2 separate regions of the Homo sapiens genome follow, and region 2 is linked to region 1. Evidence: fine-mapped expression QTL. A gene starts in region 1. The other region holds a variant in brackets. All regions are shown on one strand. Distances are between the middles of the regions.

What was found. PIP is the estimated chance that this variant, and not a neighbour inherited with it, causes the effect. A credible set is the group of variants that fine-mapping cannot tell apart.
Region 2: its variant is the best candidate, but not a certain one, in a credible set for the expression of SLC4A3 in thyroid (GTEx, PIP 0.64).

Annotation. Positions count from the first base shown.
Region 1 is chr2:219,624,558-219,629,923 of GRCh38, reverse strand. It overlaps SLC4A3 (solute carrier family 4 member 3), which reads right to left and starts at 2,294. Exons shown (of 23, transcript NM_005070.4): 1 at 2,179-2,294; 2 at 1,881-2,024; 3 at 1,354-1,519; 4 at 503-780; 5 at 229-344. The coding sequence starts at 1,931. It overlaps LOC124908064 (a long non-coding RNA gene), which reads left to right and starts at 1,914. Exons shown (of 2, transcript XR_007088701.1): 1 at 1,914-1,984. RefSeq lists enhancers at 387-1,088, 1,089-1,791.
Region 2 is chr2:219,573,353-219,578,718 of GRCh38, reverse strand. INHA (inhibin subunit alpha) reads right to left here. Exons shown (of 2, transcript NM_002191.4): 2 at 3,008-4,025. The coding sequence ends at 3,193. Among named protein-coding and RNA genes, the nearest start is that of INHA, 3.7 kb to the right of the region's middle. RefSeq lists an enhancer at 1,579-2,154. The variant T/G (reference allele first, on the strand shown) is at 2,723.

The sequences.
Region 1 (5,366 bases):
ACCTCTTCACTCTGCTCTTCTCTGTTTTTCTCCCCCCCCCCTTGTTCTCTCCTCCTTGTAAATCATGAGGACAGAGAAGGATCCCCACCCCCCTCCCACACCCTGCTCCTCTTTTCTCAGGGTCAGAGCTGGGGACACTCCCCAGGGTCAGGAAGGAGGTGACTGCCAGGAGCTCTGGACCCTGTGGCTCTGGGCTGGGCCCTGCTGAGTAGAGGCTGCAGCCAGTACCTGCTGGAGTGCTGGGGGCTCTTGTCAGTGTGTGGGCCCACCGAGGGCAGGGGCTTGGTGACAGCAGCCCTCCCAGGGAGGCCTGGACTGTCATCCTCGTCACTTCCAATGGAGAACTGCAGACATAGAATGTGCCCTGGGGCCTTGCCCCGACCTACCATACAGCCCCCAACCCTACCCAGCCTCACACAGGCCCCCAACACGCACTCCTCTCCTCCTCTCTGTACCCCTCCCTGACCCCTGACCTGCCACCCCTCCAAAGGGAAGCCCCTACCTTTGCCTTCTGTGGGGTCCCTGAGTGGGGGGGCTCCACAGGTTCTGCCTCAGATTCTCCTTCCTCTTCCTCCTCTTCCTCCTCTTCCTCATCCACTCCAGCTCCCCCCTCCTCCTGGATGGGAGGGGTCCCCTCGGAGGGAGGAGCAGAGGTTTTCTCCTTCTTCCTCTTTCTCCTGGTGTGCCGGGCAGAGGTGGGGGGCAGCCGCCGCAGCTTGTGGGGTGGAGGCAGGCGCGCTGAGAGCGGGTGGTGGGTGTGGTGGGATGTGTGCCGGTGAACTGGGGGTGCAGGAGATCCGGTTGAGGCCCCCACAGCAGAAACAGGGGCCCTCCCCACCCGAGGGCACACACCTTCCAGCTCAAGGCCGCAAACAAGGGCACCCTAGTCCTTCCTCCAGGGCCATGACCCCCCAACACCTGTGTCCACGTGCCTGTCATTGATGAGGTCTGGTGGAGTGGGAGGAGAGGGTGGATGGACAGGGAAGGTCATGAAGGGGGCTGGGAGGGGAGACGTGATACAGCAAGGAGGGGAAAGGCGGAGTTGGACTAGCCGAGGTGGGACAAGGAGGGAGTGAGTGGGGACGAAGGGGAAGGGGAAGGTCACCGTGGAAGGGCCCAGGCCCAGCTCCCTAGATCTCCCCTGGTCTGGGGCCCACCTCCCCAGGCAGGCGGACAGGCGATGGGTGGGGGAGGCAGGATGACTGAACACGGCATGTGGCCCAGCACAGAGTCCAGCACAGTGTCCGGCACAGGATGGCACTGGGTGACCAAGCCGGAGGTGAGCGCGGTGATGGTGGCGATGAAGGTGATGGTGGCGAGGGCGGCCGCACTAGGGGTCCCCAGGCTACCCACACTCAAAGTCCCGCTCGCTGTAGCTGCGGCTGGGCTTCTCGGGGTCCCAGGCCGGGGGCTTGCTGATGAGGTCCCCAAACCTGCTCACAGCCAAGGTCTTGCCCAAGTCATCGTCCTCCTCCTCCACGTCTGGACTTAGAGGGGGCTCCTCCAAGGGCACCCGGACCTGCAGGCCCAGACGGCCTCTGCTAAGGACCCCTGACCCATGAAGGCCCCACACCCACCCCAACTCCAAGCCCTAGTTGGGGGAGCTCAGCAGGCTCTCACACCATCGGGCCCCCTCCCCTTGCTCCCAGGCCTGTGTCAGCATCCCAGAAACCACCCTCTCTGGGCTCCCAGAGCTTGTAAAGAGAGAGGGCTACGGATCTGGAAAATATCAAAAACCCCCCTCTTTCTCCGTAACCCCCAGCCCAGCTCATCCCTGGATCTGGGGGGTCCCGGGGTCGGCCAGAGGACTCCTCTGCCCACCCTAAGGTCCCTCCCCTCTCCTCCCCCATCTCTCCCCCGCCCCCGCGCGCGCCGATCACCTGGGGTAGGGGGGAGGCGCCCCCGGGCGGCGGGATCACTCCGTTGGCCATGGCCAGGTAGGCGGCTGGGGACGCTCTCGCTCACTAGGGGACCCGAGACCCAGGTGAGAAGGAGGGGCCACTGAGGGGGCCTAGCGGGGAGCCCTGGGGGAGGAGGGCGGGGTCAGGTTCCTTGCGCTGGCGCCCCCCACCCGGGAGCCGGATGCACGCTCCCGGCCCAAGCGCCCCTCCGAGGCCCAGCCACGCCCGGGACAGCCCGGGTCCCCCGCCCTGCCCGGCGTGCCCCGCCCCGCGGTACCTCGGGGCTCCGGAGCCTGCGAGGCCCAGGCGGGCCGCCGCGCCCCATGTCCCCCGCGCTCTCTCCCGAGCGCAGCCGCGACTGCCGTCCGGCCTCTCGCAGCGCAGAGCCGGGCTGGCCGGGCGGACGCAGGCGCCGGAGCCCGCAGCCCGCGGCTCCACCTCCTCGCGCTCCGCTCCGCACCTCCGCCGCCGCCGCCGCCGCCGCCGCCGCCGCCGGGCCGCACAATGGGAGCGGGCGGGCCGTGACTCACCCCGCCCCGGCCGGCGCGGCCCCCACGCGCGGGCCCCGCAGCACCCCACCTGCCCGTGCGCCCCTTCTCCAGGCGCCCCACGCATCGCTGGGGGCTGGGGCGCGGCCCGATATTCCCACAATCCCCCAGATTCGCTCCCCAACCCTGCTTTTAGCCTCCCCTCCCCTCCAGAGCCCAGGAAGCCACCCCCTCCGCAGACACAGGCCCCTCCAGTCTTGGGAACGGAGCTCACAGACCCCTGGAAGCACCCACCACCTCCCCTTTCATTTCTACCACAGCCTTGCCTCTCAAAGGCCTGGCTTCTGTCGCCTGGCACCACCCAACGTTTGACCTTGACACAGTACCTCCCCTCCTCCCGCCTCAGCTTCCCCAGCTGTAGCGAGAGGGGCCTGCAATAGGGGTGTTCCAAAGTTCTATGCAACTCTAAGACTGTGTGGCTCCGTTTCCACATTTCCTCTCCCTTCTCCCCCTATCCCTGAGGTCACATCTCATTTTCCAAGGGCAAAAGGTCTTTCGAAGGAGCCACTGGACCCCAATCGGCCCCTATCCCGAGATCAATGAAACTGGACTTCTACACAGTGCGATGCCATAACAGCCCTGTGACCTTGGTACTTCACCGCGTCTGACCCCTGGCCTCATCTAGATCTCAGCTCAACCCAAGGAAAGATTTTCTGTGTGCATAGCCTTCCAAGGGGAAGGGAGCTAGGATCTGTTGGACGCCCACATTGTCTTGTGTGTGCTCACAGTCCTGTGCTAGGTTGGCCCTCTCCAGACTGGCTGCCTCGTCTCAGGCATAATAATAAGAGGAGCTGTTATGATTCCCATTTGGTCGGCAGAGGACAGTGGAGACTCAGGGAGGCTCGTTACCTGCCATGGTCACAGCTGGAAAGCAGGCTGCCGACAGGTTTGGGCATCATTATCCATGTATTGAAGTGACTCTCCAAGCCACAAACAAAATTTTTAACTGAAAGAGATGAACTGTCCTCCTAAGTCTCACATGGTGAGTCCCAAGGTGGGAATTCCTAGGGTGGGAATCAGCTATGCCTAGGCAGAGCACAGCTGTGCCCCAAAACTCAGAATGGGAGACCCAGCTGTTGGGAGTTGAGTAGTGTCCCCCAAAATTTATACGTTGAAGTCCTAACCCCTGGTACATCAGAGTGTGCCCTTATTTGGCAATAACGTTCTTGCAGATGTTAAGATAAGGGTGGACTCATCCATTATGACTGGTGTTCCAGTGAAAAGGGGAAATTGGCCAGGTGCGGTGGCTCACACCTGTAATCCCAGCACTTTGGGAGGCCAAGGCGGGTGGATCACGTGAGATCAGGAGTTCGAGACCAGCCTGGCCAACATGGTAAAACCCTGTCTCTACTAAGAATTAGCTGGGCGTGGTGGCACACGCCTGTAATCCCAGCTACTCAGGAGGCTGAGGCAGGAGAATTGCTTGAACCCAGGAGGCAGAGGTTGCAGTGAGCAGGGATCGTGCCAGTGCACTCCAGCCTGGGTGACAGAGCAAGACTCCATCTCAAAAAAAAAAAATATATGTATATATATATATGGGGGAAATTTGGACAAAGAGACGTGCATTCAGAGAACGCTTTGTGAAGACTGGAGTTATGCTGCCACAAGCCAAGGAACTACCAAAGCTAGGAGAGAGGCCTGGAACAGATCCTTCCCTAGTCCCTTCAGAGAGAGCCTAGCCCTGCAGACACCTCGATGTCTGGCTTCTAGCCTCCAGATCTGTAAGACAGTAGATTTCCATTGTTTAAGCCACTGGGTTTATGATACTGTGTTACAGTAGCCCTAGCAAACCAGAGCTATCCCAATTCTTTATTCCTCTGAGCCAGGCAATGTGGTTCCAAGTCCCTACCTTGAATTTTGTTTTGGTAGGGCCTTCACGTCCTTAGAGACACTCAAGAGCCTTGGAACCTTTCCTGGTCGGCATTGCACAGGGGCTCTGGTCTTCAATCCACCTCGACATTGTGTTCCCAGCCCCGCTCCTCTAGTCTGTAAAGTCAGACAGCAGTTACTTTAATACTGAGACAGCCTGAGAAGGGTCTTGCCAACCAGGGACCCCTGGTGTACCAGGCCATGTACATCCTGCACACCAAGATGCCATAAGGGTGTCACAGGACTTGTCCCTCTGAGGTTCCATCCACCCCAGAGAGGATGCTGAGCACAGGCCCTCAACTTTTGGTAGCCCCAGACCCCCATTCTTTCAGTTGGAGACCCGCACCCCACCCAGAGTCTGAGGCTTCGTTCTCTACCCTTACAGACCTTCCTCTCTCCTCCACCCCTCTGAGATGATGGAGTAAAATCTCCCCTTGAAGAGCCTTTAGACACCCATGTTTATCTCTTTCTTTCCAGGCTGGGGGGAGTAAGATGATGCTGACACCCACCAACTCATCCTATTAGACATAAACGCATGCTTTCATTAGGCCCGCTCTCGTCTTTGACATCCTGCCTGCGGCGCACCTGTAATTGTCAGTCCCCTACAGTGTGTTCCCGATGGGGTCTTCATTTCTGTGACAAAAGAGCACTCCTTGCATGCACAAAGGATGGCCACTCTGGGTATGTGTCAGCTTCTAGCTTACAGCCTGTAGACACTGAAATGGTGACAGGAAAGGTGACAGCAAAGGCTGAAGCCAGCGACAGGCCAGCTTAGAGCAGTAGCCAACTGTCACACCCTTCCTCACAGTCCAGTCTCACAGGAATGTCCCCACCCTGCATGCTGGCAGCATAGGACACTTGTCTGCACATGCAGCAGCACCACAGCCTGTCCCTTAGGTCCGAAGGAGCAGGAGCCATCCCGCCACACCACCCAGATTTGGAGGCAAAGCACACCGTTCTCTGGGCTCCCCATGAATGGGCCAGAAGCCCTCGGGTGGATTCCTCTGATTCTGTTCCCTGAAATCACTCTGCGGGTCCAGCGTGCTGG
Region 2 (5,366 bases), 51 kb after region 1:
CCGGCCTCATACAATTCTCCTGCCTTGGCCCCCCAAAGTGCTGGGATTACAAGCATGAGCCACTGTGCCTATCTTTGTCCCAGGACTTTTGTAAGTGAACTCCCTCCTGCCGGACCAAGCTGCATAATGATGGGAGCCTGTGCTGCCTGGAGTTGCCATGGACCCAGGATGGAGCTGATCTGGGGGGAACTAGAGCCTATAGATGGATCCTAGTAGCATCTTTTGAGCCCAGAATTGAGCCATACCTTAGCTAGCTGTGCCTGTGGATTTATCATGAGCCAATGAGCCAGTGCTGGTGAGTTTTAAAAACTTTTTTTTTTTTTTTTGAGAGGAAGTCTCAGTCTGTCACCCAGGCTGGAGTGCAGTAGCGCGAACTCTGCTCACTGCAAGCAAGCTCCGCCTCCTGAGTTCAAGTGATTCTCCTGCCTCATCCTCCCAAGTAGCTGGGATTATAGGCAAGTGCCACCATGCCCGGCTAATTTTCATATTTTCTGTAGAGATGGAGTCAGAACTCCTAACCTCAGGTGATCCGCCCACCTCAGCCTCCCAAAGTGCTGGGATTACAGGCGTGAGCCACCGCGCCTGGCTTAAATACACTTTTTGATCTAATCCAGTTGGAGCTGGGTTTTCTGTTTAAACTGACTCCAAACTAAGAGTATTCACAGTACGTCCCTAATGATTAGCATTGGGAACAGGGATCATCTTTGAAATTCACTGCTCTTGGGCTGGTGTCTTGATGAGGATAGAAAACAAAACGATGTCCGTAGCCACTGTGGAGCCCCTCTTAGGGATCTGTGAACATCTTTCCTAATTTGCTGCGTTAGCAGAATCTAGGTATTAGAGACCTTAGAAGGAGTGGCTCCGAACAGTGACTGTCAGACATTGGGATCTCACAGATTTCACAGGGCAACAAAATTCCAAAGAAAAATCTTACATTCCAAACTGGAATTGCCAAGTTTAAATTTTGTTGGGTAGAAATGCAAACAAACAAAACCACTACTTTCTACCCTCTTCATAACATCATGAAAGAGCTAACACTGTCACACACCCACAAGCAGAAAAGGTAATGGGTAGCATTGAAAGATAGCCTTTATAAAATGAATATATTTGGCTTTGTGAAAGACTCCCTCATACTCATTTTTCTCATTTTGTCTCAGACATGTGCACGCTTTTCACTTGCAATACCAATCTGCTAACTGGCCTCGTGGAGAATCCTGTACCCCTCAGTAATCTGCCCCCAGCCCTCAGCGCCCATCCTCATCCCTGGGACAGGGAGCATCTGGATAACACAGGGTTCTAGGGGGCCCCAGCAGGAAGAATGAAGAGCTGAAGCCTAGTAGGAAAATTGAAGATCCCAGGGAAAGACCTCACTGTTTGGGAAGGGAGGATCTAGCCAGAGAAGCCAGGCAGGGAGCACGTAGAACATAGACAGGCTTGGAAAAAACCTCCCCTTCCCACCACTGGCAGAGCCCAAGCAGCTGTCTCCCCAGCCCACTGCCTGAATAGGGATGCACAGAGCTCTGAGCACAGAGCGCTTCCAATGCTGAGTCAACACGAAGGTCCTGGGAGAGGCTGGGGACTGCAAACAAGCAGGTTTCCCCCTCCAGAACAGTGACAGCCTTCTGGGGGACTCAGTGTCAACAGAGACTGGGGCGTGTACAGGAGCACGTACATGGCTCTGAAGGCTCCTGTGCTGCAGGGAACAGTGGCTCATTCAGGTTAGCTCCGGTGGGGGAGGGGTGTTGGTGTAACTGTGACGGGATAGGATTCTTTCCCGCTGCACCGCTCACTGGAGCAGGCGCTTACCCTTCCACCCCATCAAGCCAGGCTGGTAGAAAGGAGTCTTTGACCAGTAAAAGACTCTGGTTAGATAAATACACACTGTAGTTGTGCAGTCAATATCAGAAAGTGCTCTCAAGTTCCAGTCTGATGGACCTGAACATCCCAGCCCTTCCCCTAAACACACACACACAAACACACACACACACACACACACACACACACGTGTTGGAGACTGGATGGAACCAGTGGCTGATAGCAGGGACCCTGGGGTGGAGCACAAGGATAACGAGACCCAGGGGGATAACAAGGAGAGTGAAAAAAGCAGGGAGGAAGGCCAGCGGAGAGGGGCTTCCCCATGCCCAAATCCGGAGGCAGAATGGACTGATAGGAAACGCAATGAAAAAAGAAAAGTGCTGTTTTGCACCATGTCCTGCATGCACAAATTCACAAAAGAGCTTTTCTATTTTCTGGCAATAGCCTCAGTCTTTCCACTCTTCTGATGCTAAGGGCTGAGTTAAGGGATTATGTAAACATGTACAGGTGACATCAAGGGAGACAAAGAGTTCATGAACTAGAATCCTACTGCAGGAGGCCTCACGGAGTCTACAGCAAGAGTCAGTGACGGATTCAAAGAAGGGCCTTTGGCAAAAGGAAATCCTCAGGTCTTTGGTCAGGTGATCTGTCTGACCTTAACACAACACCACCTCTTTGCCCTTGTTAATTTCTTTCTGATGCTGCCAACACATATATCTCTCCCTTACATCCCACCCAAGCTTCCCAAGTAACTCCAAGGTCTGGCCAACTCTGGACAATTGTCTCAGTGGGACTCCAAAGGCCACAGTCTCTGGCCAGGCTACAAATCACCTGACCTCGGGCTAAGTGCCCATCAGCTGTGGCAGAGAATGGCAGGGGAGGGGACTTATGGCTGCCTTGGATGTGG[T/G]CATGTGAGTGCAGCAGTCTCCCTTAGGTGTGCAGGGCAGGCAACCTGATTGACATGTCTGGTTCAGCTTGCATGCGTCCAGCTCTGTCTCCAAGGTGGCTCTCCAAGGAGCTTGGAGCACTATTATGTCACCCCCAAGCGTTGTAGATTCCCAACCAATACACATCCAGTTATAGCTCTTGAACTTCATGTCTCTGAGGTCAAGTGTGGCTGAGTGACCTGAGATCTGACAGTCCCATGCTCCTGGGGGCCCAACTCCATATCAGAGAAGCTGGAGAACATATGTCAAGTCATATGCACTGTGTTCTTTATTGAGATAGAAGTGGGGTGGGGAGGGTAGCCCATAGGCAGAGAAGTGAAAGGAGGGAGGAGTGGGAGCCATCTATTTCCCAACTCTGCCTTTCCTCCCAGCTGATGATGGTGGGGGCGTGGCCACCAGCCATGGGATTAAGAAGGAAGACCCCCCACCCTTAGATACAAGCACAGTGCTGCGTGAGAAGGTTGGGCACTGTCTCATACTTGAAAGAGTAACCTCCATCCGAGGTGGTGCGGACATGTAGGGGCCTCATGGTCCCTGGGAGAGCAGCACAGCAGGGCTGGGCCCCTGGCAGCAAGGAGTAGGGCTGGGCTGGGGTAGGGGGAGCCCCAGGGACTGGAAGGGACAGGTTTGGTGGGATGTGCAGCCCACAACCACCATGACAGTAGTGGAAGATGAAACTGGGAGGGTACACGATCCACCGTTCCCAGCCCAGCTCCTGGAAGGAGATGTTCAGTGCTACTCTGTGGCAGTTGGCATGGGCAGCCGGTTCCTCCGGAGGCCTCTGCAGCAGGCGCAGAGCAGAGGGAGACCAAGGCCAGGACATCAGGGGAGTTGAGCGTCGGGCTCTCTCCCCTCCACTGGGTGGTCTGGTCCGAGTGTGGGCCACCAGGAAGGGCGTGGCCTCAGGCCGGGCTGAGCAGGTACAGAGGGGACAGCGCAGCAGCAGCACCAGGACGGGGTGGGTCAGCAGAGAGAGAGCAGAGGTGGCCAGGTGCAGCACGGCCCAGTGAGGGGGAGCATGGCCCAAAGACATGGGCACAGCCACGGGTCCTCCCGGTGACAGTGCCAGCAGGCCTAGCAGGGGCTCAGAGCTATTGGAGGCTGCTGTGCCCTGCCTGTCCAGCCCGGTGTGGAACCACAGCTGGGCTGAAGTCACCTGGCGGCTGCGTGTATGCTGGGATGGCCGGAACATGTATCTGAAGAGGCCCTCCTCAGCCTCCTGGGCCAGCCCTCTGGCAGCTGACTTGTCCTCACAGCTGGCATCTGCAGGAGACAGAAGAAAAGGGAGAGGGCAGCCCTGACTGGCAGGACCTGGCACCCCTCCTCTTCAGCAGGAGGGATGTGGCCACCAGTCATGAGCCAATGATGGGCTGCACTCTGCTCCACGCCCTCCGGGACGTGGGGACTCTCCTGAGTTTTGGGAGAGCTTCTGTAGGCTTCCCATTTTTTAATTTCATCATGAAGGGACTTAAAAAAATAGAAGACATTGCCAACTTCTCTCTGAAGTGGTTTTACCAATTAACATGCCCATCAGCAGTGTGTAAGAGGCCCTCTCTCCACTTCACCAGCACTAAGACTTTGTATTAGACTTCAATGCTTACTCACCAGATAGTGTGAAACAGTATCCTGAATGGTGTCTACATGGATGGTTGTTATATTCTTTTTTTTTTTTTTTTTTGAGACAGAGTCTTACTGTGTCACCCAGGCTGGAGTGCAGTGGCATGATCACGGCTCACTGCAGCGTCTACCTCCTGGGCTCAAGCAATCCTCCCACCTCAGCCTCCTGAGTAACTGAGACCACAGGCGTGTGCTACCACACCTAGCTAACTTTTGTGGGTTTTGTAGAGACAGGGTCTCGCTATGTTGCCCAGGCTGATCTCAAACTCCTGAGCTCAAGCAATCTGCCTGCCTTCACCTTCCAAAGTGCTGGGATTATAGGCGTGAGCCATCACACCCAGCCATATTACCATTTTTTTTTTTTTTTTGAGATGGAGTCTAGCTCTGTCGCCCAGGCTGGAGTGCAGTGGCGCCATCTCGGCTCACTGCAACCTCTGCCTTCCGCTCCGCCTCCCACGTTCAAGCAATTCTCCTGCCTCAGCTTCCCGAGTAGCTGGTGCCACCATGCCTGGCTAATTTTTTGTATTTTTAGTAGAGACGGGGTTCACCATGTTAGCCAGGATAGTCTCGATCTCTTGACCTTGTGATCCTCCTGCCTTGGCCTCCCAAAGTGCTGGGAGTACAGACGTGAGCCACCGCGCCCGGCCTATATTACTCTTTATATCTTTGGCATGTCAGGAATATTGTAGGATAAATTCTTTAAAATAATTCCATTTTTAAAAGACAGGTTTACACCAAAAAAAAAAAAAAAAGAAGAAGGAGGGAAAGGCAAGTGGGAAAGGGAAGAAAATGGAGAACAAGGAAGAGGGGGAAGAGAAGGAGGAGGGCTGTAACTCAGAACAGAGGGCAGTCCTTTCAAGAATGTGTAGTTAGCATCCTCACACTGACACACTCATAGACTATACTAATCATCCTGGAGCAGCACTCGTTCATGGACTGGCAATTGGAACTATACTGTTACATGGCTTCTCTCATTATCTAGTCACA